Homo sapiens: one gene and its partners. The protein of the gene in region 1 interacts with the protein of each later gene in a pairwise test. Each region holds a gene or a part of one and is shown on either strand. Other genes may lie near its edges. The genes, in order: HMBOX1, FRMD6, GNL3L, FGF11, ZMYM5, FAM13C and ZBTB26.

What was found.
Region 2: the proteins of HMBOX1 (region 1) and FRMD6 interact in binary tests that used the Homo sapiens proteins (3 or more experiments, as listed by UniProt).
Region 3: the proteins of HMBOX1 (region 1) and GNL3L interact in binary tests that used the Homo sapiens proteins (3 or more experiments, as listed by UniProt).
Region 4: the proteins of HMBOX1 (region 1) and FGF11 interact in binary tests that used the Homo sapiens proteins (3 or more experiments, as listed by UniProt).
Region 5: the proteins of HMBOX1 (region 1) and ZMYM5 interact in binary tests that used the Homo sapiens proteins (3 or more experiments, as listed by UniProt).
Region 6: the proteins of HMBOX1 (region 1) and FAM13C interact in binary tests that used the Homo sapiens proteins (3 or more experiments, as listed by UniProt).
Region 7: the proteins of HMBOX1 (region 1) and ZBTB26 interact in binary tests that used the Homo sapiens proteins (3 or more experiments, as listed by UniProt).

Annotation. Positions count from the first base shown.
Region 1 is NC_000008.11:28,896,895-28,900,394, reverse strand, and holds part of HMBOX1 (homeobox-containing protein 1), read right to left. Parts: intron 1-3,500. UniProt on the Homo sapiens protein: Binds directly to 5'-TTAGGG-3' repeats in telomeric DNA. Associates with the telomerase complex at sites of active telomere processing and positively regulates telomere elongation.
Region 2 is NC_000014.9:51,703,910-51,707,409, forward strand, and holds part of FRMD6 (FERM domain-containing protein 6), read left to right. Parts: intron 1-839; coding exon 840-1,026; intron 1,027-3,500.
Region 3 is NC_000023.11:54,547,219-54,550,718, reverse strand, and holds part of GNL3L (guanine nucleotide-binding protein-like 3-like protein), read right to left. Parts: intron 2,491-3,500; coding exon 2,346-2,490; intron 1-2,345.
Region 4 is NC_000017.11:7,438,178-7,442,311, reverse strand, and holds the start of FGF11 (fibroblast growth factor 11), read right to left. Parts: upstream 2,801-4,134; 5' UTR 2,692-2,800; coding exon 2,499-2,691; intron 1,545-2,498; exon of another isoform or gene 1,496-1,544; intron 862-1,495; exon of another isoform or gene 858-861; coding exon of another isoform or gene 842-857; coding exon 731-841; intron 537-730; coding exon 433-536; intron 1-432.
Region 5 is NC_000013.11:19,832,650-19,836,149, forward strand, and holds part of ZMYM5 (zinc finger MYM-type protein 5), read right to left. Parts: intron 3,041-3,500; coding exon 2,828-3,040; intron 1-2,827. UniProt on the Homo sapiens protein: Functions as a transcriptional regulator.
Region 6 is NC_000010.11:59,247,550-59,251,049, forward strand, and holds part of FAM13C (protein FAM13C), read right to left. Parts: intron 222-3,500; exon of another isoform or gene 189-221; coding exon 65-188; 3' UTR 1-64.
Region 7 is NC_000009.12:122,928,713-122,932,851, forward strand, and holds the start of ZBTB26 (zinc finger and BTB domain-containing protein 26), read right to left. Parts: upstream 2,801-4,139; 5' UTR 2,725-2,800; intron 2,554-2,724; exon of another isoform or gene 2,352-2,553; intron 1-2,351. UniProt on the Homo sapiens protein: May be involved in transcriptional regulation.

The DNA of each region.
Region 1 (3,500 bases):
GAGGACTATACCAATTAGAATTACCTGATATACTTATGAAGGATATATATTCCTGGGCCCATCTCAGATTTTAGGAATCTGGGGGTAGAACTCAGGAAACAAAATATATATATATATATATATTTTTTTTTTTTTTTTTTGAGACGGAATCTTGCTCTGTAGCCCAGGCTGGAGTGCAGTGGCGCAATCTCAGCTCACTGCAACCTCTGCCTCCCAGTTCCCAGTTCAAGCAATTCTCCTGCCTTAGCCTCCCGAGTAGCTGGGATTACAGGCGCGCCATGATGCCCAGCTAATGTTTTAGTATTTTTAATAGAAACAGGGTTTCACCATGTTGGCCAGGCTGGTCTTGAACTCCTGATCTCATGATCCGCCCACCTCAGCCTCCCAAAGTGCTGGGATTACAGGTGTGAGCCACTGCGCCCAGCCAGAAACTAAAATTTTAATACTTTTTCCAGGCAATTCTTCAACACAAAAGTTGAGATCACTGTTTCCTTCTGTTGTAGCCTAAGTGCTTAGAACTCTGTGACTCCCCAACTATTTATCTCCTGTGGCTTTGTAATCTGACTCCAATCTTCTAGGTTCCTTAGTTGCCTATCCTTGACTTGTACTTATTTCTAAAAATCTTGGCCCTGGTTTGGTAATATAATAAAGACTTGGATATGGAAATTTTAGCTCTGAAGTCCATATAAACTCCAATACTGACATAGGAATAAAAAGCTCCAGTTCCTTTCCCTGAAATCATGGAGCTTTTGTTAAATATCACCTATGGTGTTGACTGGACATTGGATTGACCCAGTATGTCAATTCTTTTGTTGCCAGATCTGCAGAGAACAAGATGCTCACTACTACAGACTCAACTATTTGAATTCCTGCTTATTGTCTCTAAAGAAAGAAGGCACAAATTTTCTTGTCAGGGATGAATGACATTTGCTAAGAGAACAGTTGTCACTATATAGATAGAGGGTGCCTATGAGAATGTTCCAGTTCCTAGAGTAGTGATGAAATGAGTTCTCCTAAGATGTCTCTAGATCTTAATGATGGGACAAAAGAATGTCTACTTGATATGAATAAGAGCTTCTTTATTCAATAAGGGATAGTCTTTGATAGCAGCAATGAGGATCCTGATACAATGGCTTCTAGATACTTTCATGCTTAGTAGGTTAGTGATCCAAACTGTAGAGATAGTACGTTCATGTATCCAGGGCTACCTCTCATTCTCCTTCCTTAATCCTAGCTAGTTCTTATAGTCCTACTTTGTCATCTTTCTGGTTTGCCTGAGGTGACTAGAATAAAAAGCAAATCTTAAATTATAGGAGTCTTTTGCTATTTCCAGCAAACTGATCCTTGCAGAAAAGGATTAAATCCAACCTATCTTTGTATCCCACAAAGTACCTCATCACGCACTGCTAGACTTGACATGTTTAACTGAGTGCCTTGTTCAACACCAACAAGAGAACCCTCCTCATAAAAAGCATCTAAAAGCTTAAGCCTCATATAAAAGGTGCTTTCCACGCTACCTCCCACCAAGGTCACGGGATAAGGATAGACATTTAAGTCATGGTGGTCATGCAATGCATTCAGATTTCTCTCTTGCCAACTGAACTAAAAGAAACACACTGTCACCATCAACAGGTAAACTCTAGTTGAAAGAACAGTTCAAGTCAACACCATGGCAAATCAAATCCACTTACCAGTCAGAGAAGCAGAGACTATGAAAAACCAGGGCAATACAAACAGAACTGGAAGGGAGAAGTGAGAAAGGGAGATGAAGCAGACATGGAAGGAGATGCTGAGACAAGAAACCATTTATCACCAGAACGAGAGCTTGAGAGACTAGCTTCTCAGATTCCTAACGTTTCTCCCATTCACACAAGGTCTAGTCACTCTTCTTCAACCCAAAACAGCTGAATCCCTACAACGCCTGTCCTTGAAGCCAAATGATCCCTAATTCAAGCATTATTTTTTAGTACGTACACCAAGACAAATAGAAAGCTAGAAACATAAATCCAAGGAGGAAAAAATAATTCTACCAGGAAAAAACTGAAATCACAGGTAGCCAAAAAGCTTTGTAAATATGAATCTTATTTATCAGGAAGTACCATCAATATTTGTCATATTCCTGCTAATGAAACAAATTAAACTTTGTCTTTTTTTAATAGAAATTATCACAGTATTGACAAATGAAAAATTGTCTCAAACCCAGAGAAGACAAAAATCAGGTGATCTACCTTTATTTGTTAATACATTTGAAAATATTTTGTTAGCCTGTTTAAAGCAGACTTCCGTTGTTGTCTGTAATAATCGATAGTATATTGGATTAACAGCCTCATCTTTTAAGACAGGCTTTATAATCATATGGCTGATTAAGGGGCAGCAAAGTATAACCAACCCTGTAACTATCCTTTAACTTGTACCTAACAAAAATAGTAACCATAACCTCCCCTTTTATTCTGTAAAGATCCTTTTTCTGAAAATATCTTTGAACTAACTTCCTTTAAAGCTAGTTCCCTTGCAACAAGTACAAAATAAAACTATGACATATGCTGACAATCAATTAATCTGACAAGTTTGCATTAACACTGTCAAAACCAAACTAATGTCAAAATAGCTGTAATTTTGGTTATCTAACACAGATTCTAACATATCCTCTCTAGCAACAAACATACCATGTAAGCCTTGAATTTATTTAAAATTTAAATCTTTTTTTGTTTGTTTGTTTGAGATAGAGTCTCGCTCTGTTGCCCAATCTGGTGTGCAGTGGCGCCACCTTGGCTCACTGCAACCTCCGCCTCCCAGGTTCAAGTGATTCTCCTGCCTCAGCCTCCTGAGTAGCTGGGAGTACAGGTGTGTGCCACCACGCCCGGCTATATTTTTGTATTTTTAGTAGAGGCAAAGTTTCACCATGTTGGTCAGGCTGGTCTTGAACTCCTGACCTCATGATCCATCTGCCTTGGCCTCCCAAAGTGCCGGGATTACCGGCATGAGCCACCACGCCCAGCCTCATTTAAATCTTACACATTTTATTTGTGGACAATTTCAATGTTATCGTTAACTTTTACCAGAAAATTTTAATGGGTCCTAATATTATAATTCCTCATTTAAAAAAAAAAAACTAGCCGACCAGTGGCTTACGCCTGTAATCCCAGCACTTTGGGAGGCCAAGGCGGGTGGATCACCTGAGGGGGGATTCGAGACCAGCATGACCAACATGGAGAAACCCCGTCTCTATTAAAACTACAAAATTAGCCGGGCATGGTGGCGCATGCCCATAATCCCAGCTACTCAGGAAGGCTGAGGCAGGAGAATCACTTGAACCTGGGTGGCAGAAGTTGCGGTGAGATGACATCGCGCCATTGTACTCCAGCCTGGGTAACAAGAGCGAAACTCCATCTCAAAAAAAAGAAAAAAAAAAAAAACCTAGCCAATATTCAGATTCTCATAACAAAAAAAAAAATTGGTATGTTTGCAATGTCAGGTTCATCTAAAAAATAAACTTTTAA
Region 2 (3,500 bases), on another chromosome or scaffold:
TTACTTTGATCACAAAAGCATCCTATTTGCCAGTAAATATTTTTTGGAGCTTTTACCATGTTTTCCCCAGTCAGCATTTCTTAACGTATTTAATGATGACTGTATTTATTTCTGATCTCAAGAGATTGTAATGAGTGCTCTGTTAGTATTTCCTTTTGTGGGGAGTATAATAATTGTCGTGACATGTGCCTGTAAAAACATAACAGTAATGTAACATTCACTTCAAAAAAATCCCCAAAAAAAGATTTAAGGAAAGCATTCATTGCATTTCTTCTTGGAGAAGTTTAAAAAACGGAAAAGAAACCTTTGTTAAGCAAATTTTTTTCCAGAAGAGTATATATGCAAATACTTATAAAGGGCCTTAGAGTATTTGTAGTGTGTTCAGTTAAAAAATAATAAAAAGAACAGCAAAACACTGAAGCAGGATTGCTCCTCAGATTTTTCCTTATTTATGTCACGTGTGTAGCATCATTGTAGCAACATTAGTACAGACAACACATGTCTAGTTTCTATTCTAATACTTGTTCAGTGAAATATTTACCATTTTAGAGTGGAATGATTCAGACCTTTTTCTTCTCTGAATGAATCAAATGCTGTAAGCCTTAGGAAACGTTATTTTTATTGTCTGGATAGTCTGATTTGGGGTTCTGACCCCCTGCAACCTCAGTGAGGCAGCTATCAGATATTAGCTACAACCGCTTCCTTTTCAGTGAGGTGGGAGGGAGGAGCAGAAACAGAAGGGTTCCTGTCACCAGATGGAGAGAAGGATTTGGGTTCTGTTTACATGTCATTGGATTATTCCATCAAAATGTGAGTTCTGTTTTCTTTTATTTTTCTAGTGACAGAGCAGCAAGATACTATTATTACTGGCACCTGAGAAAACAAGTTCTTCATTCTCAGTGTGTGCTCCGAGAGGAGGCCTACTTCCTGCTGGCAGCCTTTGCCCTGCAGGCTGATCTTGGGAACTTCAAAAGGAATAAGCACTATGGAAAATACTTCGAGCCAGAGGCTTACTTCCCATCTTGGGTAAGCACTGTTTTCAAATTCGAAAGAGTGTTTTCTCTCGGGCATTTCTAGTTCGTAGTGTTGCTACTCATACTCTTTAAGAAATGGGAACACAGATGTTCTGTGGCCAAATTCTTTGTGATGCCCAGATATTTAATGCTTAAGAACGTGGTGCACATCATGTCTTCATGTACTTAGTCTGCTTATGGTGAGTGGGGTAGAGAATTGCCATCCATCCTGATAATACAGTGGAGCTTGGAATTTACCAGCCTCCTTTCAGCATTGACATGCCCTTGACCTTCTTGCCTACTCTTACCGAAGCAGTATTTTCTCCCTTTGAAGGCAGAAAAACATAACTCTTTAAAAAGTAAGATTATTCCTCGCTTTCCTTTGCTGCGAGAACAAGTATGTCAACTTCTGGCTCCGGCCTCCATGTCCTCCACTCTCGGGGAGGAACTAACCCCTTCTTTCAGCAAGAAAATGTGGGTTATTCCAACGTGAACTGTCTCAGCTGCGCTTTCTCCACTCCACCCTGTCTGTTTCTCTTCCCGTCCTTCCTCCATGTCTAGGCTGTATTTTCTGTCTCTCTTCTATATCATTAGCCCCTCCCCAAAGTAACTCTTCTTCAGTGAGAACATGCAAAACATGTTTGGTTCTCACCCACCCATCCTTGAGAAAGAAAGTGGGGAGGGAAAGAAGAGCTACTACTCTTGCCTTTCCTTCTCAGTAAAGCATCTTGAAGAGGTAGTGTGTATTTGATTTTTTCAGCTTCTTTACTTCCCACAAGTGTTCCTCAAGCCATTTCCATCTGCCTTCTTTCCCCATCAGTCCACTCATGGTGCTGCCTGTTAGGTTGCTTTATATCAATACAGTAAAGAAGTAAAAAATTAAATATGCACTACTTTTGCTTTATATTGACACCAGTTGCTTTATATTAACATATCCAGCAGACTCTTTTCACTAAATTTTGCTGCTGTACCTGACACTTAACTACTCACATCTTGGGAGATCTCATCCAAATTAATGCTTTTAACGATCACCTATGTGAAGGCAAGTCCCAAATCTGGTTTTTTCCCCTATATCCATAAGGTAGCTGTTTACCCATAGGCCGTTCAAACTCAAGATGTCCTAAATCAAATTCATTTTCTTGCCACCTCATTTCTACGTATTCCTACCTCTGAGTACGTGGGAGTCATACGGAACTCTGCCTTATCACCATTCCTTCTCCCTGTCCTGTCCCATCAACTGTAACACCTTGTAATGTCTGTGCTTGAATACCAATCACCCAGCTTAAGAAATAAAATTATCTTCTATTTTTATTGCCATTAGCCTTCCTAAATGTCCATTGCCTCCTCTCCCTGTCTTAGCTCCTGCTGTTTCTAGGTTCGTGTTCTCAGCAGCACTGTTGCAGAAACTTGTCCCTGCTTCGGTCTTTACTCCACAGCTTGCAGATGAGATGATTTTGCTTCTGACTTAAACTTTCAGGGCCTCCTCTGTCACCTGTGGAGTGAAGCTCAGGCTCCCATGCATAACCTAGAAACTCTCCAGATTATAGTCCCTGCCAGCCATTCCAGCTTCCTTTCTGGTTGTCCTGCACCTTGAACTTTAGGCTCTGGCAACATCCAGCCATTGGTGTGTCTCCATACTTACTGTGGTGTTTCATGCTTCAGGTCTTTCTTCTTGCAGTTCCTTTAGCCAGTGAAGCCCCTCTCTGTTTCACCTGGCTAACTCCTACTCATCCTCCGAGACTCAGCCCAGGTGTCGCTCCTTCTGGGCAGACCATCTAGGTGCCCAGTGCTCAAGAAGAACCTGGGAATAGTGTTTTACATCTTATTTTAAAATGATTTATTTCTTGCTCCCAGTAAACTGTTTCTTAGTGTGTTCTGAAAGACGGGCATAACCTTAACCTTTTCTATTTCATCAGCTCTTCATATTGAGGTACTCAGTAATTTTTTGTTGTGTGACTTAGAGTGCTTCATTTTTTTGGAGAGAAATCACAATGTCTGTCAAACTATTGCTGTCTGTAGCATGTTTGCATTCTCTGGTTGTCATCAGGTGCTCATTGAATATTGATTATTGAAATCCAGTTAGTATGCCAGGGCAACCAGTGTGCTGAGATATCAGTTTCCCCCACCCTTGGGATCACCAAAGCCATCTGCTTTAGTGCCCTTACAAATACTGTTTTCAGTGTGCTTTTGACCTGAAAAAAAGGTTGATAAATAACTGATTTAACTGATTACCATGTGAAAAGAACCTGGAAAGAAAAATCTGTGTAACTTGAGTTCTTAGCAGAACTTGACAACTGACTATTAATTCATCATATTTAATTCTCTGTAAAATATTCAATAGGAAGAAACAAAATGTCAATATAAAGACATTTTAAAACCAAAAAGTCTGTAATTTTTAAATTTTGATTATTTTAAGCACGACTCTTGCTCACATTGCATAATTCTTTCCATCTGTTAAGTTCCTTATGGAATCAGCTAAGACTTTAA
Region 3 (3,500 bases), on another chromosome or scaffold:
CCCACTCACAATCAGCCAGGCAGAGGTCCTCAATGCAAGGCCTCAGTGGCACAATCCAACAGAAGGTGGACATCGAGAAATGTCTAAGAAACAGAGAACAACCTGTCTGGGTGTATCATTCCATGGATGGGGATGGAGGTCATCTCCAGATGCCAGTCTCTCTGTGCAGCTGTCTACCTGAGGTGTGTATTTTGCTGTTTGTGCATCTGTCAGCCATTCTCAGCCTGTGGATGTCTTTGTGTTTCCCCTCACTGGGCCTCATTCTCACCGTTCTCTTTCTGTATGTGCTCAATTTACATGTGTGTACTATTGTCTCAAGCATATGCTTGTTTCAACCCGAGAAAGCTGATTGCCTAAAGAAAAAAAAGGTATATGTCTAAGTATACCTCTCGTGCATGAAGCCTCTGCACACCTCTCTCCCCCCTCCCTCTCTCTAGGTCATTCTCATTCTAAATTATCACCATGCATGGAAGTCTCTACACATCTCTCTCTCTCTCTCTCTCTCTCTCTCTCGGTCATTCCCATTCTCAGTATCACCACTTTTTCCTTTTCTTGTATCTCTCCCACTCAGTCTCTTTCTCTATCTTATCTTTGTTTCTCTCTGTGTCTCTGTATCTAAGCACCTCTTTCTCTGCCAATTTGTCTGTCTCTCATTCTGGCCATTGTTCTTTTCTCTCTGATTCTCTCCACCCCACCAATCCTGCCTCTATTTGTAATTCCCTCCATGCCAACTCCTGTCAGCCTCTGTCCATGCTCCTCATCTCTGTGGGCTGGTCACTTCATGGATGCCTCTCTGTATGTGTCTCACGGTGTCTCTTCTACTCTCTCCCTGTCTGCGCCTCCTTAACCTCCTCTCTGTATGTCTCTATTTCTCTCTGTACAGGTACACATACCTGCCTCATAGTGACATGTCTGGTATTTGTGTCCCTCTGTAACTCTAGGTATGTGATTATGTTCGAGGGTCAAAGTGTATGTGGGCACATGCGTGTCTTCTTTTTTTTGAGACGGAGTCTCGCTCTGTTGCCCAGGCTGGATCTCAACAGTGGCACGATCTCAACTCACTGTAACCTCAACTCACTGTAACCTCCACCTCCCAGATTTAAGCGATTCTCCTGCCTCGGCCTCCCGAGTACCTGGGATTACAAATGCCCGCCACCACACACATCTAATTTTTGTATTTTTAGTAGACATGGGGTTTCGCCATGTTGGCCATGCTGGTCTCAAACTCCTGACCTCAAGTGATCTGTGCGCCTCAGCCTCCCAAAGTGCTGGGGCTACAGGCATGAATGAGCTGCTACATCCAGCCCTCCTTGTGGTTCTATGCGCGTTGGGGGAGCAGCGTTGGGGTGGGTGTGTGTGGGAAGGGCTTGGTCTACATGCATTTTGACTGTGGTTCTGTCTCGCTAGATGTGCCTCCTCTGGATCTCTGGGTCTGTAGCGTGGGTCTGTGTATGTGTTTGTGGATCTGTATGTGTACTTAAGAGCTATGTGTATGTGTTCCTCTGTATCTACAGCCTTGTCCAGTCTGCTTCCATGTATGTCTCTCTCTGAATCTGTCTCTATCCCTGTAGTATGTTTTTCTCTCTCATTCTTTGAGAAAACATGTCTGCCTCTCTACATACATGGGTTATCTCTACCCTTCCTATGTCTCCCTCGGCAGATCTCTGTATGCATGTCTGTTTCTATGTCCCTTTTGGTGTTTCTGATTGTATCTCCCTCTTTACATGCCTCCATCATGTAAATCTGTCTCCTCTTTCCATTCCCCACCAATCCTGCCATCTGGCTTCCCAGTGCGTTCTCTGTGTCTTCTTCTGTATCTATCCTGGTATGCATACCTATACCTTCTCAGTGTCTAGCTCTCTCTCCAATGTCTTTCTCACGTGGCTTCACATTCTTTCTCTGGTGATCTATCTCTGCCTCTCTCAATTTCCCTACTCCATTCCCATCATCCCTCCCTCAGAAACTTGTGCTCCAGAAAGGCCCAGGTTTTGATCCTCAGCTCTGCCTTGTCTTGCACAGGGCTGGGCTCCAAAAGTCCCTTTGCCCTTCTCTGAGCCTCACTCAGAATTCTCATCCGTAAAAGGTAGACGGTCACCCCATCCTCCCATAGCTCTGATAGGATGAGATGGTACCAAGTCCAAGCCTGGCACCCTGTATTTGCTCCATGAATCTAATACTCAATACGCAGTGATGCCCACCCATCCAAGTTACAAATCACGAAACCCTTCTCCTGAACCACTCCTCTCTCCCCGCAAAAGACAATGAAGCTCCCAGGATCCTTTCCCCCAGCGAAGTGTCCGCTCAAGAAAGAAGCCTGAGCCCCATGACCACACAGCAGGTCTTACCCACAACACCCACACGAATGTGGGTGCGCACTTCACCAAGGCGGCAATAGTTCCCCAGAACCCTCATGAGGTTTTCAGCTCCAAAGCAGGCTTTGCTTTTCAGCAGTGACTCAGAGGCCTGATCTACTGGCACACTGCAACGATTCTGGAAAAAAAAATTGAATATCACAGAAGAGACATCAGGTGGCAGATGAGGTCTGAGCCCAGATTTCCAACTTTCAGGGCCTCCCTATGATCACTGAGCTCCTCAGCCTGAAACGGAAGGCTTCTCACACAGATCTTGAACACGTGTCATTTCCCCATTCCCCTCCACTGTCTTTGTGTCTCCAGTCTCCTCTGCCCCTGCGTCTGCTTCGACACATGTCACTTGCCTCCCTCGGCAGTGGCAGGATGGCATCCTGGCTCTAAATAGGCCAGGTTTGAGCTCCAGGTCTACTTCTCACAGGCCTATGTCCAGCAAAGCCTGCTTCCCTTCTCCAGGCCTCAGTGCCCTGTGTGCACAACAGGGATGCCCACCCTCCCTGCCTGCGCAGGGATGAGAGGGAGCCTGGCCCACAGCCTACCCTCCCTCAATTCCTCACACAGGACAAAGCCATCCCAACCTTTACTCCTGATGCCACTTCCTCTGCCCAGAATTCCCTCCCTCCTCTTCCCTTACTTTTTTTCTTTGAGACAGAGTCTTACTCTGTCACCCAGGCAGGAGTGTGGTGGCACAACCTTGGCTCACTGCAACTTCCACCTCCTGGGTTCAAACGATTCTCATGCCTCAACATCCCAAGTAGCTGGGACTACAGGCATGCACCACCACACCCGGCTAACTTTTGTATTTTTAGTAAAGACAGAGTTTCGCCATGTTGGTCAGGCTGGTCTCAAACTCCTGGCATCAAGCAATCTGCCCACCTTGGCCTCCCAAAGTGCTGGGATTACGGGCATGAGCCACCACGCCCAGCCACAGCATTGTTTCCAATATCACAAAATTGGAATTAGCCTATATATCCATCAATAAGAAACAGGTTAAAAAGCTGTAGCCTTAAAGTGGAATACAAATGAAATACAGCTGTTAGAAAAGGTGGCTTCTGGCCGGGTGCTGTGGCTCATTCCTGTAATCCAGCACTTTGGGAGGCCAAGGCAGGCGGATCACTTGAGGTCACGAGT
Region 4 (4,134 bases), on another chromosome or scaffold:
GCCAACATAGCAAGACCCTGTCACTATTTAAAAAAAAAAAAAAGAACTAGACTTTTAGGGGTCTTGCAATAAGATTCCTTCTCTCCACTGTACTCCCAGTCTCTCACTATCCCCTATCCTGGATGACTCTAGGGAAGTGAGTAATGACAAAATCTGGAGGAGGTGGGATAAGAAGTAGGGGCCCTAAAAGGCAGAAAGAGTTGGACATTCAAAGAACCTGGGGCTGTTTTGGGGGTGTGCAAGGAGTGGGGACTGGAGAGACCCTAGAGGAGCTGGTCTGGAATGGGCAGCGATGACAGGCCATCAGCAAAGCTGGAGGGAGGAGTCCCGGGCAAAATGTCTGTAGTTGAGGAAGGTTGTCATTCCCTCAAGGGACAAATTGAGGAAGGGGAGTCCCCAGTATTTCCCGGCCACTCAGCCTCATTGTCTCACCGAACTGTAGAGCAGTCCCTCAGCATTCATGGCCATGTAGTGACCCAGCTTGGCGCTCTGGATGGTGACCACACGGAGGCCCACAGGGATCAGGTTGAAGTGGGCTGCAGGTGGAGAGAGGGAGCATCAATACCCAGGCCTCTGACCCTCACCTGAGCTCCCCTCATCCCAGCTCCACTTTTTCCCTTAGAGGTCAGGAAGACGGATCAATGGCAACAGAAGCTGAAGAGGGAATAGGATTGTCATCTCCTGTCCCCATTCTCCCCCTTCCCACCCTGCAGCCAGCTTCCCCTCTCACTGAAGGAGCTGGTATCCTCTGGGGTGCCCTGGATGCTTCCGTCGGGATTCGCCTGGAGGTAGAAACCCTGGCGGCAGAACAGTTTGGTGACGATGCCTTTGAGCTGAGGCTCTGGAGAGAGAGACATTCATCTTTGAAAATGACATCTCCGTTCCCAGAAACATTCCTACACTTGGCAGGATTAGAGGGAAGAAAGGAGAATGAAAGGAAGGAAGAGGGTCCCAGGGCCCCAGCTCTCTTATCCTCCAAGCACGCTCTCTCCCACCTCTCTTTCACTCCTGGGAAAGCTGGTGTGGGTCCCTTCTGTTTCCTATAACCAGGAGCTTTCAGTGTAATTTATTGAAATTTATTTAAATGGCTTAATTCCTACCCTACAGCTCAACCAGAAGGGGGAAGGAGTGGGGGAGGAGGGAGGGGAGAGATATATCAAAAGGCAGGGACAGAGGGAGACCAGCAGGGGTACTGAAGGGGCAGCGTGTTTGCGAAGGTGGGGGATCTTGGCAGCAGCAAATTGACCACAGGGTAGGGGCTCTCCCTCAGGAGTGGGGGTGGGACTGGGCCTGACGCTGACTCAGCACCTGCTGCGGCTGCCGCTAGCTTGGCGAGAGCCTTGCCTTGGCCCAGCGCCGGCCTGTCTGACACTGACCCATCTGTCTGTCTGTCTGTCTGTCTGTCAGTCCGCTGGCTCCCGGGGGCCCAGTTCTCCCTGAGGCTCAGCCTCTCCCCTTCGGCCAGGTAACTCGCCTGGGGTAAGGGGGACCTTACCAAGGATATGGGGGGTGGGAGCTGAGGAGATGGAGAGGCAGGCTGAGTCACGTGGGGGCCCGGTCCTACTCAGAGGGTGGGCTGCGGATTGTACCACTATGGGCAGCCGGTGGCGCGGGGAGGAGGGCGCGAGGTGGCTACCCTTAGGGGAGCTGGGAGCGGGCGGGAGCAGGGCCAGAGGGACTCCCTGACTGTCGTACATGGACGGGGACCAATTCTAACTCTCACAACTCTCCTCCCCCATCGCTTGCTCTCTGCCGACTTCCCTGTCCCCCCTTGTAGGTGGTACGACCCCCGAGTCGGCGCCCATCTCTAGCCGTGAACTGTGTCTGAGTTCCTGCCAGCGTAGGGTCCCCTGAGCCTACGGGACCCGATTTCGGAGTGGCGCGGGGGTTATGGGAGGGGTGCCCAGCTCCGTTCTTGAAGCGCAGGTCACAGGAGGAGGGCGCATAGAGGGCTGGCTGGCGAGGTAGCTGCAAGGACACCCGAGGGAGAGCTGGGGAGATTGGCTCGGAGCCAGCAGAGCTCGACCAGGAGGAACCGAGCCCAGGCGTGGAGGAGCGGGAGAACCGGGGCAGGCGGGGGCTGGGGGGGGGCGTGCGGCTGGAGCTGCAGAAATCCTTGGGGTGACCCAGGCATCTGGAAACCCCCGGGCCCCTCCGCTCCAGATTGAAAGAATCGCGAGAACCGGCACGTAGGCGGAGGACGATGGGGGTGGGGACTGCTGTGTTGGGAAGGGGGGACGAGCAGGAACTACGAGGCTTTCGGGGCGCCAGGCAGCCCCTCAAGCCTTCCCCTTGACCTCGAAAATAAGGAGACTCCGGGTTATGGACAAAAGAGAAGGGAAACTGAGGCACAGTCTGGCAGGGACTTTGTCGTCCTGGCCCACCCCCTTCCACTTTCGGGGAGCCCCTCAGCCGGGCCCTATTCTTCAGAGTCCCTGGCCTCAATCTCCCAGGCAGAGAAACCTCTGGCCGGGAGACCCCGCCCCAGCCGCACTCACCCGGGCCGCGGTCCGGCCGCGCGGGCCGCCCCCCGCACAGTCGCACCTTGGACAGCAGGATGAGGAGCTGCTTCTGGCAAAGGGACTTGGTGCCGCGGGGACACACGCGCCGCTGCGCCGACACCGGCCGGCTGCCCCCGGGCTCGCGGACCTCCCGCTTCTGCCGGATCAGGCTACTGGCCAGCGCCGCCATAGCGCCCCGGGAGGAGACACCCCCAAACCGGCAGGCGCCCGGAGCGCGCTGGGCTCCCCCAGAGGAGCCCGCTCACTAGGGCATGCTCTTGACGCTCAGGCCCCGACTCGCTGCCCCACCCACAGGACCTGAGGATAAGCCCCAGACCCCCCCCCTCACGTACCCCCCTCCACAGCAGCCAGTTACCACCCGTGGGCCCAGTGCTGGCTCCACCAGATCCAGCAGCCTATGTACTCCTCAGTGGATCCCACCCTCGAGTTTTGCCTCCTATTGAAAACGTCCCCTTTCCCTCCTCTCCAGTGTCTGTCCTCACTTCACCTATCCCAAAGCCAAGACCCACTAAATTTCCAAGACGTGGTTTAAATATCTTCAGGCACCTTTCCACTGTATTTTGGGGCACACTCCTGCCAAATCCACTCTTGTAATCTACAGGGTGTGGGACTTTAGCTTTGGGAATATTCGCTCATCCCACCCCTACTGGGGCACTGCCAATGTCAGGAAGGAACCCAACCTTGGTGTTTTTTCCTTTGCTACACTCTAAATGGAGGGGATCCCCCACTTTTTTCACTGAAATCCCCCCAAAATATGTCTCAGAATATCCAGGTTGCCCAGGTTCAGTAAGACAGGGCTCCCAGACCCTCTGGCTGGATAATACCTTTTTCACCAAGTCCCCCCCATGTCTAGTAGCATAGAATTCTAGCGGCCAAGACCCTTTCTTCACCTTCACACCCTCCGCTCCTTTTGAAGTCACCTCCAAATCCACCCTTCCTAGTGGATACACCAGGTAGTTGACTGGAGGGCCTTCCGCCACCTCAAAATGAGGAGCATCCGTGTTTGTTTTTGTTTTTGTTTTTTTCTCCCCTGGCTGCCCCTTAAATTTTCTTGGGGACAGCTGGTGCTGTTTAGATCCCACGCCCTCCAATCTAACCAGCCCCCCAAGAGAGGAGTGCACCCACGTTGTCACCAGTCCCCAGATGTGAACAGGCCCCCTACAAGTCAGAGCGGATCACAGCTTCCTGCTACAGGGCTTCCTCGTCCTCCCCGGGATTGCCTATAGCACCCCCTCTTCCTTTTCCCGACGCCCCTCAACCTGTCCTGTCCTGTTGATCCGGCGACGGGTGGCGCTGGCTTCGGCTCCAGGCTCCTCCCTCCCTGTCCCCCGCAAACGGAGCTTCCCCCCACGCCCGGCTAGGCGTCCCGGACCCTCGGGAAGGAGTGAGGGTGTCTCTGCAGAGCTCCCCGGTCCGGCGAAGTCAGAGCACTGGGCCGGTGGCTGGACCAGGCAGAGCGGCGGCAGCGGCAGCGGCTGTGGGAAGCTGAGGCGGCGGCGGCGGCGGCGACAGCAGTTCCCCCTCCTCGGAGAGCCGGCCCGGGGGCGGGGCAGGGGGCGGAGACGCTGGGAAATAGGAGGGTGAAGCCGGGCAGGAGGAACCCCGGGGTTCC
Region 5 (3,500 bases), on another chromosome or scaffold:
AAAGGCTTGGAAAATATTAAGACTTAATATAGTTTTTATTTCCAAATTAGAAGGTCAGTAGGTTACTTTTGTCATGTAACTGTCTTTGAAAAGACAATTTAACAATATTAAGTCTTTTTAAATTTCGTTTTGTTAAAGATAGTCTCATTCTGTTGCCCAGGGTGGAGTGTAATGGTGCAATCATAGCTCACTCACCTCAGTCTCCTGAGGAGCTAGAACTACGAGTGTACAACCACCATATCTGGCTAATTAAAAAAATTGTTTTGTAGAGATGGGGTCTTACTATGTTGCCCACGTTGGTCTCCAACTCCTGGACTAGTGCCATCCTCCCATCTTGGCCTCCCAAAGTGCTAGGATTACAGGCACGTACCACCGTGCCTGGACCTTTCTATTTGTTAATGTTCATTGTGTTCTTCTATAAACCAAAAGCTTTCTTAAATATTAGGTGCAATATATGTAAAGAAAAAATAATTTAACATAAATAAGGTTTTCTTGCAAAAATAAACAGAAAAGTCAACTATGGGTATCCACTGTTTCTCCTGTTCGATAAAAGCCTAGCAATTCAGGGTTACTTTCCCTTGAAGCTAACCAATTAAATTCTCATCCAGTGAAATGGGGGTTAAGAATATTTCCAGTTTTACATTATGATCTATCTTAATTTTTGTGTATGCAATGAAAAGGGGTCAAGGCTCATTTATTTCCACACAAACAAAAAATTATTTCAGCATAATTTGTTAAAAAATCTTGTTTTTCCCATCAGAATAATTTGGTACCTTCTTGAAAAATCTACTATGTGGTTCTATTTCTGGACTATCTTCTATTTCACTGATCTCTGTTAGCCCATTTGTTTATATACCAAACCATACTGCCTTGATTATTGCAGCATTTTAATGTCTTAAAGTCAGGAAGTTGATAATTCTTTAACCCACATCTAACACCATATACAAAATTAATTCAAAATGAATCACAGGCCTAAAAAATAAAAGCTAAAACTGAAAAGATTCTAGAAGGAAATGTAGGAAAATATCTTTGTAATTTTGGTGGGCAAAGATTCCTTAAATACACAAAAACTATTAATCACAAGAGAAGCAAATAATAAATAGGACTTATAAAAATTAAAATCTTGTACTTTTCAAAAGTAATATTAGGAAAACAAAACAAAACATTAAGAAAATGAAAAGACAAATCAGTCTGAAAGAAAATCTTCCGGCCAGGCACAATGGCTCATGCCTATAATCCCAGTACTTTGGGAAGCTGAGGTGGGAGTACTGCTTGAACCCAGGAGTTCGAGACCAGCCTGGGCAACATATTGAGACCCACCTGTATTTCCTTTTTCTTTTTTTTGAGACAGAGCGTTGCTCTTGCTGCCCAGGCTGGAGCGCAATGGCGCAATCTCCGCTCACTGCAACCTCCACCTCCCAGGTTCAAGCGATTCTCCTGCCTCAGCCTCCAGAGTAGCTGGGATTACAGGTGCCAGCCACCATGCCCGGCTTATTTTTTTTGTATTTAGTAGAGACGGGGTTTCGCCACGTTGGTCAGGCTGGTCTCCAACTCCTGACCTTAGGTGATCCATCCGCCTTGGCCTCCCAAAGTGCTGGGATTACAGGCGTGAGCCACCACGTCCAGCCTATTTTTTCTTTTAAAAAAAAAACAGAAGAAAAAAAATTTTTTTCCAAATATATTTATTTTATAAAATACATGTATCCAGAATAATACCAAGGACTCCTACAACTCAGTAACAAAAAGAATTCAATAAAAAATGGGCTGAAGACCTGATAGACAAAACAGACAACTACCACATTTTAATTTTTTTTTTTTTGTAGAGACAGGGTCTGGCTATGTTGACCAGGCCGGTCTTGAACTCCTGGCCTCAGCTGATTCTCCCACCTGGGCCTCCCAAAGTGCAGGGATTACAGGCGTGAAGCACCTCACCTGGCTCCAAATTTTGGTCAGAATGTAGAGCAACTAGAATTATCAAGTGCTTAGTGGGAGTGCTAAATGGTACAGAAGAAAAATTAGTCTTTTAAATTCATCCAGGAGTAACCTTTTTCTTTTTTTTGAGACAGAGTCTTGCTCTGTCACCCCGGCTGGAATGCAGTGGCATGATCTCGGGTTTGCAACCTCTGCCTACCAGGTTCAAGTGATTCCTATGCCTCAGCTTCCCAAGTAGCTGGGATTACAGGCACACACCAACTCGCCTGGCTAATTTTTGTATTTTTAGTAGACAGGGGGTTTTGTCATGTTGCCCAGTCTGGTTTCAAAATCCTGGCCCCAAGTGATCTGCCTGCCTTGGCCAAAGTGCTGGGATTACAAGTGTTAGCCACTGTGCCTGATCATTTTCTTTCTTTTTTTTTTTTTTTGAGACAGGCTTTCGCTCTGTTGCCTAGTTGGAGTGCAGTGGTACAATCATAGTTCACTGTAGCCTCAATCTCCCAGGTTCAAGCAATACTTACACCTCAGCTTCCAAAGTAGCTGAGACTACAGGCACATGCCATCATGCCTGCGGCTAATTCTAAAAAATTTTTAGTAGAGATTACGTCTCACTATGCTGCCCAGGATGGTCTCAAGCTCCTGAGCTCAAGCAATCCTCCCACCTCAGCCTCCCAAAATGATGGAATTACACAAGTGAGTCACTGCACCCAGCCCAAAGAAAATTTTTAAAACAAGCTTACAACAATCTTAGACTTGAATATTTGAGATGGGACAAACCAATGACAGAATGGCAAAATGGAATTAAATGAGATTCTAAGATAAATCCGGTTCATGTAAGATGTAAGGGTGAAGCTACTATATATTTGATCATTTAAAGCTCATGAAAAAGAATTACCTGTTTATATTCGTTAATACAACTTTGGCAGCAAAATCTCTTCTGCTGACCTCCAATCACCAGGATGTTGTTTCCAGTACTCTTACTAGGCATGTACTCTCCACAGTGTTCACAGCAGTTCATTATTAGACCATTGGCCAATCTGTACTTATTAAAGCAATGGTTACTGCACAGTTTATGTGTTACATTATTTACGCTGACTTCATGGCGAATCTAAAAGAAAAACCAGAATTCATTAACTAAGATATATGAACCAGATTAGCATAGCAAGCAATGAGATAACTAGTTTCTGCAATAGAAGCAAAGAATCCCTAATCATATCTCAGAGGAAGATATACCCAGGGAAAAGATTTTTTTTTTTTTCTGAGATAGAGTCTCACTCTGTCACTCAGGCTGGAGTGCAGTGGCACAATCTCGGCTCACTGCAACCTCTGCCTCCCATGTTCAAGCGATTCTCCTGCCTCAGCCTCCCAAGTAGCTGGGATTACAGGCGCCCGCCACCACGCCCAGCTAATTTTTTTATTTTTAGTAGAGACGGGGTTTCACCACGTTGGCCAGGCTGGTATCGAACTCCTGACCTCAAGTGATCTGCCCGCCTTGGCCTCCCAACATGCTGGGATTACAGGCATGAGCCACCATGCCTAGCTGGGAAAAGATTTTTAAAAAGCATATT
Region 6 (3,500 bases), on another chromosome or scaffold:
TGGCAGAGGAAAATAAACTTTACTTTATATCATGGGTGAAAGTGATCATAACATTTCCTGAACCTCAAATAGTTTTGGCCACATCTTGCTTGCTGATGAGGACCTCTAATAGTCTCAGTTTGGCTTTTATGTGCTTATATTCATAATACTCATCTGCCATTGGTATCCTATCTTCCTTTTGTGGACTTCTGCAAAACAAAAATACATTTGTTAGTTCACAATGAATCAAGTCATTATTTAAACATTCTTTTATAATTCATACATGAGAAAGTATACTGTAACGGCCTCCACTTGGTTTTTGCATCATGTCTTCTTTTCCTTCCCTTTCACCTTCATTCACTCCTTCTTCCATGTGTTACTAAGTTTCTAAATAATAGTAACCTTTGAAAACTTGAATGTCATAAGTGTTTTGCAAATATGTGGTCTAGTGCTTAGACTTACAACAAAGGGGTCAGTGAAAAGATCTAAGGAGAAGCAAACAAACAAGAAACAGAACTTTCAAGGCATTCTTTGTCCAGTCATTCTTCCATTATTTGCCACACCCCTACAGCTGTACAAAATGATCAGCCCTAATACAGTTGTTAAAAATATTAACCTGAAAATACTACAGGAATTTCATTATAAAAATAACATAAACCTATGGTAACAAGAAAAGCATTTAGGGTCTGTCTTACAAACTTGAAACGTTTCCAGATTTTCTTGTAATTATAATACCTATCTCTGCTAATATATAGTAGAACCACTGAGCTGTTCCTTGATTGAAGTAATTGACAAGAGTCTAAATTGTGGTGGTTCTCTTCTGTACACTAATTCTACTAAGGCTAGACATGTAACAATGCATAGATTTTTATACATATGCAGCATACTCTTGCTGTTTACTTGGAAGAATAACTTGGTAATATCAGGAGTTAAAACCATTTGCCTTCCCACAAAAATATGTTGTCAGGAAACGTTTTCTAAAGGGAAAAATTGCGACAGGGTCTCAGAAGGCTCTTGTTTTCTTGGTTAATAAGATAGCCAATCGTTTTGAAAACATTTCCACCCACGACTTTGAAATTCAAGGGGTAGAGGACACAGATATAGTCACCACAATTACAACTGAATATAACCACAAGTATTCTCTAATGTTAGTATGGCTGAAACCAGGTAAATAGCATATATTTAATGTTTTATCTTTAGCTCCCTTCTATTTTTCCCAGTAGTGATAAAGAGATATTTCTATCTCTTACCAAATAAAAAACAAGCTAATCTATACAAATTAAGAATATAGTATCTACTTGTATTTCAACACTATTTATTGCCCTGCAATTTCTAGTACAGAACTCAGAACAGTATACAAATCCATAGACAGCATTCTTCTTAACTGTTGTCTAAATTATATAACATATATCTTTGCCTCCATTCTGTGTTATGAGTCAAACTTATCATGGCTGGATGTCTGAATACCACCTTAATTTGTATAAATAGATCTAAGTAAAGAAATTGTCTAATTATTACAGAGAAACATTAATAATCAATTATGTAATTTTCCGTAGTTTTGCATATTCCATTTTGGCTAATAAGAGTGCTTTGAGGCCGGGCACAGTGGCTCACGCCTGTAATCCCAGCACTTTGAGAGGCCGAGGCGGGCGGATCACAAGGTCAGGAGATTGAGACCATCCTGGCTAACATGGTGAAACCCTGTCTCTACTAAAAATATAAAAACTTAGCCACGCGTGGTGGCGTACGCCTGTAGTCCCAGCTACTTGGGAGGCTGAGGCAGGAGAATGGCGTGAACCCAGGAGGCGGAGCTTGCAGTGAGCCGAGATCGCGTCACTGCACTCCAGCCCAGGTGACAGAGTGAGACTCCGTCTCAAAAGAAAAAAAAAAAAAAAAAAAAAAGAGTGCTTTGACAAGAATGAAAAGTTTTGCCAAGTCTTTCCTGAAGGAGTTTCTCCATTATATAAAACATACTAAAGTGCTTAGCACACTTCCAGGCTAATAATTATTAATAATAATGTAATATCTGCATGATTCTCATGCCTCTTGTATGGCAAATATTACCAAGAACATTTATAGTGCCTTAAACATTTTAGTAATCCATTTGCATGGTTATTTTAACTTATGGATGCTTAGGCCTTCCCAATAAAATGTCTTAGATAAACAAAATTAAGGTCCATATTTCCTAGCCATTCAACTGTTTGATTTTAGTTGTAAAAGATCATCACTTGTGCATTTAGTTGAAATATATCATCACAAGGGGGCATAAAACTTCATAGACAAATACAGACTTATCTGAAGTGGGTTTAAGACTCATAGGTGCAGTGGAACACTATACATAGAACATAACTAACTTCCCTGTATGTATGACAAAAAGCACACCAAGTGACACTGCAGATCCAGTAGGCAGGACTAGTAGCACACTGGGAAGTTCTCAAACCCCTTACGATAGATTCCTGAGTTCAAATTGCTAAAAAATATAAATTTATTCAGGGAACTCAAATTTATGAAAAGAGTGTACGCACATCTTAAAGTGTCATTTCTCATATGTAATGACTGTTTAGATTTAGAATATGTGATAACATCTCCACAAATATTTCCCTGAATGAAAAATTCCCATAGAATACCTTTAATCCAAAAGAGGCAGAGATCAGGAACTTTATAGTGCAAGTCACATATTTACCCAAAGTATAATAGGAGCAGACAGTCCAGACAGACAAAGTTACTACTCCAAGGAATATTTTACAAGGAAAGTTACATGAACATTTTATAAAAGAAAAAAGTATGGAAAAGGAAAAAAATAACAAATGCTTTATATTCTAAATTTATGAGCCACATAACATTTCTCACTAGATTACTTAACATCACCAAAAAGGTAAGTTGGACTTGTAGCAATCAACTGGAAAGGAAGATTGTAAGTAGAAAATAAGTTGTTACATCTGTATTGGCTGAATGCAAAAAGCTTTTCACTCAATAGGTCCAGTCCTAAAGAATATCCCTGGTAGGCTAAAATGGAAAACCTGCCAGGGACTAAGAGGTAAGTAGACCACGCATGAGAGTTTCAAGGTGCTTTTGGAAAATAGTCCCTTTCCATCAGGACAACCCTCAACCTGCTGAACTGAAAAGTCAAATACAATACCTAAATGGAGAGGAATACAGAGGAGCCCATGTAGCACTGATGAGTTTAATGATGAGTTTATGAGTTGAATAATGAGTTTAATCTCATTTCATCTACTTAATAACTTGTGGCTTTGGGAAAGTTACACTCTTCATTTATTTATTTTTGTAAAGATTGATATCCCACATGACAGCTGTAGCTTCCCAAAGTATCCCAGGAGTCCAACCATTTCAGCTCATAAAATGGGAACTGAGGTTCAAGATAGCTAAGCAATTTATCTCTCTTCCAAATTAGATCAATAACCTTATCTCTTGATTATATATGTAATTTTGTTGATGATACACCAAAAATTGGAGGAAACTAATAGAGTGTATAATGAGACTTGGGTTGACACAGAAAAATA
Region 7 (4,139 bases), on another chromosome or scaffold:
AAACTTAACCAAACTAAATCTCAATTCAAGGTACTCAAAAATACCTGTTCTAGGCTATTTCCCTATCACTTGAAATGCATGATGCCTGCACTCATGCACTGTCTAAACTTCAATAAGCCAAAAAAATTTCTTATGGAGAATGGCTTGGAGAAAAGTACAAGGAAGCATTTTAGTATGTGATTACTCTAAACAGATCAAGACAGAATGGCATGGGCCTGAAGAGAGACAACAATAATATGGATGGAGAGGGGAAACAGATTTGAGAGACATTTCCAACAAAGAACTGATGGGCTTGGTGACCAATGTGGGGAAAGGGTCAAGATGACTCCAAGATATTTGGTTTCTGTAACTGGATATCTTTGATGAATGTCATTCAGCAAAGCAGGGAATATTGGAGGGCATGATCATGAGTCTGGTCTTGAGCCAGAGAAGCCTGCATGACATCAAGGTGAGGATTCATGAGCTGGATGGATATGAAGAAAAGATCTGATTACAGATGGTAAGTGATAAATGAAAGCATGAAAGTGGAAGAAATTAACCTAAATGGGCAGAGAGTGGAAACGGACTTAGGAAGAAAGAAATAAAAAACATATCAAACATAAATCCTTTACTTACCTTCTTCTCAACCTGGGTCTCTTTCCAAGCCTCTCCATTCTTATCAATGAGCCTCTCTTTGCTTAAATGTTTCCCACTCCTTTGGCTCCTATATTCAGTCACTGCATAGAGCAGTGGGTAAAACCATGGACTCTGGAGCCGTATTTCCTAGGATCAAAACCCTGCTCAACTACTTTCTGTGTAAACTCAAACCACTCTGCTTCAATATTCCCATCTATCAATAGTAATTTATTTCATAGGGTTGTTATGGAAAATAAATGATTTAATTTTTTAAAGAGCTTAGAACAGTGTCTGGTATGTACCCTATAAGCATGTGTTAGGTATACAAATAAAGCCTGTCAATTTTCTTTGTGAAATGCTTTAAATGTGTCCTATCCTTATTCCCATTTAACACCAAACCAGCTGAGGTACCTAATATTTCATAGAGTATCACCTCATCACTGTACTAAATTGCTTTTTAAAAGGTCACTAATGACCTCTTCATAAAGAAATGCAATACTCTCCCCTCCCCCAAGTCTCCAGATGCTCTGCATGAATTGATCCAGTGGTCTCTCCTCGAAATTCCCTTCTCTTGATTTCTGGGTCTTCTTGCTTGCTGTAACCCTGCACTCCTACACTTTATTGCCTACTGCTGACTACTACTAGCTCCAATTCCTCTTTCTGCTTCATAAATGCAAGCATTACCCTCCCCCCCCAAATTTCCTTATTTTTCAAAATTCTCTTCCTGATGCCAGCTATTGCCATGGTTTCCACTTCTATGCTGATAACTCAAACTTTTACCTCTAGCTACAATGTTTAGGCTGAGCTAAAGATTTGCATTTCCAACTCCATGCTGGACAGCTCTATGTGTCTGTCTCATTAGACCTTTAATTCAACATGTCCAAAAAATGAATTCATAATCTACACTAAGCTTATGGCTTTATTTCTGATAATGGCATTACCATCCTTCAGCTCAGAGGTCTAAAACCTAAGAATTAGATTTGGTCCCTCACACTTCTTCAGCATTCAGTTAATTATGGAGTCTTGACATAATCATCTCCAGTATATTTGTCTCCTTACCAATGACACCATTATAACTTATTTCAGGAATTTTTTGCCTCTCACTAGGCTGATCCCATTACCCCTTCAAAAGAATCTCCGATAAGCGTTCCTAACTTTTAGCTAAATGTCTAAATGCAGTTAATAGAAAGTCCCTTCTCTATGGGCTTTCTACAGAACAAAATGATTTCCTGCAGTGCAAATCTGACCATATCAATATTCTGTTCCGAACTCTTCAAAAAACTACCCATCTCCTTTAGGATTACACCATTCACCATCTGGACCTCGGTCGACTTTCCCAGTCTCATATCCATTCTGTGCATAGGAGTCCCCCCATTTCCTCCTCTTCCCACACAAGTTATGCTCAGTCATTTCTCCACAGTATTGCAACTGTCTTCCCTGAAAAACTCTTCAACACTTTACTCTCTCCAAGTACAATTCAGACATCACTTTCTTTCTAAAGCCTTCTCAGCAACGGCCCCTTGAGCAATTAACACATATGTGACTGATACATACATACATATATATACACATAGGAGTACTTATTTGTTCAGATCTGGCTCCCAAACTTAATCCCGAAAACTGGAACAATATCTTGCCAATCTCCAGTGTCTGGTATAGCGCCAGTAATATAAAAGGTGCTGCGACCAGTGGCCAAATAGGGGAAAACCCCAGCAAAAGGGTAACCTAGCACTCACAGTGGTTCTCAAAGACTGGCACTGAATGCCTGGTCTTGGGCTGGCTCCCGAGGCTCGTTTTCTTAGGGCCTCACCTCTGGCACTTCTTATAAGATGCCAGAGTCAGGCCCCCAAGCCAACTGCTGGGCCCTCAGCTGGGGTCCTATGAGGCGGTCCCAGGGGCATCCTCAGGCTCCCCACTCCAGTCACAGGGAAGGGAAAGGGGCGGGGCGCAGCGTGGGCCGGGCCAAGGGCTCCTCAAGTCCCCAGGGGCCTAGGCCAGCCTCTCGGCTCCCATCCCAGTGCAGGTCCCGGTTGATCCAGGGCCCCAGGGGGGTTCCATTTTGAGACACCCCGCACCCCAGCCCGCCGCTCCGGCCGTCTCCGCACTTACAGACCCGGGGGAAGGCCGCCGTCAGGATCCGGCACCGCCAGGAGCTCCGGCCCCTCGGGGCTCCGGGAAGGGGGAGGGGCAAGGAACCCGAGCCAAAGGGGGACCCAACGGAACCGGAAGGGCAGCCCTGGCCGGACAAAGACAACTTCCAGGTCCCATGGTCCTCTCCGCCAATCGGAAGGCTCGGAGGACAACAGGGGCCCCGAGAGGGAATTTCTGCGTTGTGGGCGGGGCGCAGACGGAGGGCACCGTACTCTGGGCACTAGCTTCACTGCCTACTACCCCGAGGTGCCTTAGCTCGTAAGCGTCTGTGGCTCAGGCCCTGTGCGCCTCGCAGGGACCCGCTGCTCGGGACCCCCGTCTCAGCGGCTCTTCTGTAGCTGGGCCTAGACGGTCCGCTGCCTCCTTGGGCCTGAAGGGCTCCTCTGCACTTAAACTTTGGTAAGTCTTTTTAGCCTAGGGGTGTAGACTCGTCGCGCGGGAGCCCGAAGAGCAGAAAGCTCTCCCCTCACTTTTGGATGTGTTTTTCAGGGTTCTTGCCTTGGAGTTCTTCCTAGGGCAAACTCTTGCACTCCCATGGCTTCCGTTACCTACTTCATGCTGACCATTCACAACCCAGGCAGCTACATGGACGAGATCTCCAGCTGTCCTGATGTGAAAGTACCTTTTAATGATCTCAAGTTCATCTCATCTCCTATCCAGACCGGAAAACTTGAGGATCCTTCTAGAGTTCTTTTCCTTGCCAATCCAGTTTACTGGTTTTTGACCATTCTTTTCGTTTTTGGTGGTGGTGAGGGGCTTTTTATTGAGGTAAAACATGCGTAATGTTTATTACTTTAATCATTTGTAAGTGTAAAACTTGATGGTCTTGAACTCTGGAGTTAAAGTGATCCACCCTCCTCAGCCTCCCAAAGTGCTGGGATTACATGTGTGAGCCACTGCTCCCAGCCTTTCCCTCTTTTTAATGTAGTTATTTACAACTATACATTTCACTTTGATCACTGTTTTCACTACAGCTCATAAGTTTTTGTATGTTGTGTTATTTTCATTCATTTCTAAGTATTTTCTAATTTCCCTTTTGATTTCTTCTTCTTTTTTTTTCTTTTTTTTGAGATGGAGTTTCGCTCTTGTTGCCCAGGCTGGAGTGCAATGGTGTGATCTCGGCTCACCGCAACCTCCGCCTCCTGGGTTCAAGCGGTTCTCCTGCCTCCGTCTCTAAAGTAGCTGGGATTACAGGCATGCGCCACCACACCGGGCTAATTTGATATTTAGAGATATGGAGACGTGGTTTCTCCGTGTTGGTCAGGCTGGTGTCGAACTCCCGACCTCAGGTGATCCACCCGCCTTGGCCTCCCAAAGTGCTGGGATTACAGGTGTGAGCCACCGTGCCTGACCTTGATTTCTTCTTTGACCCA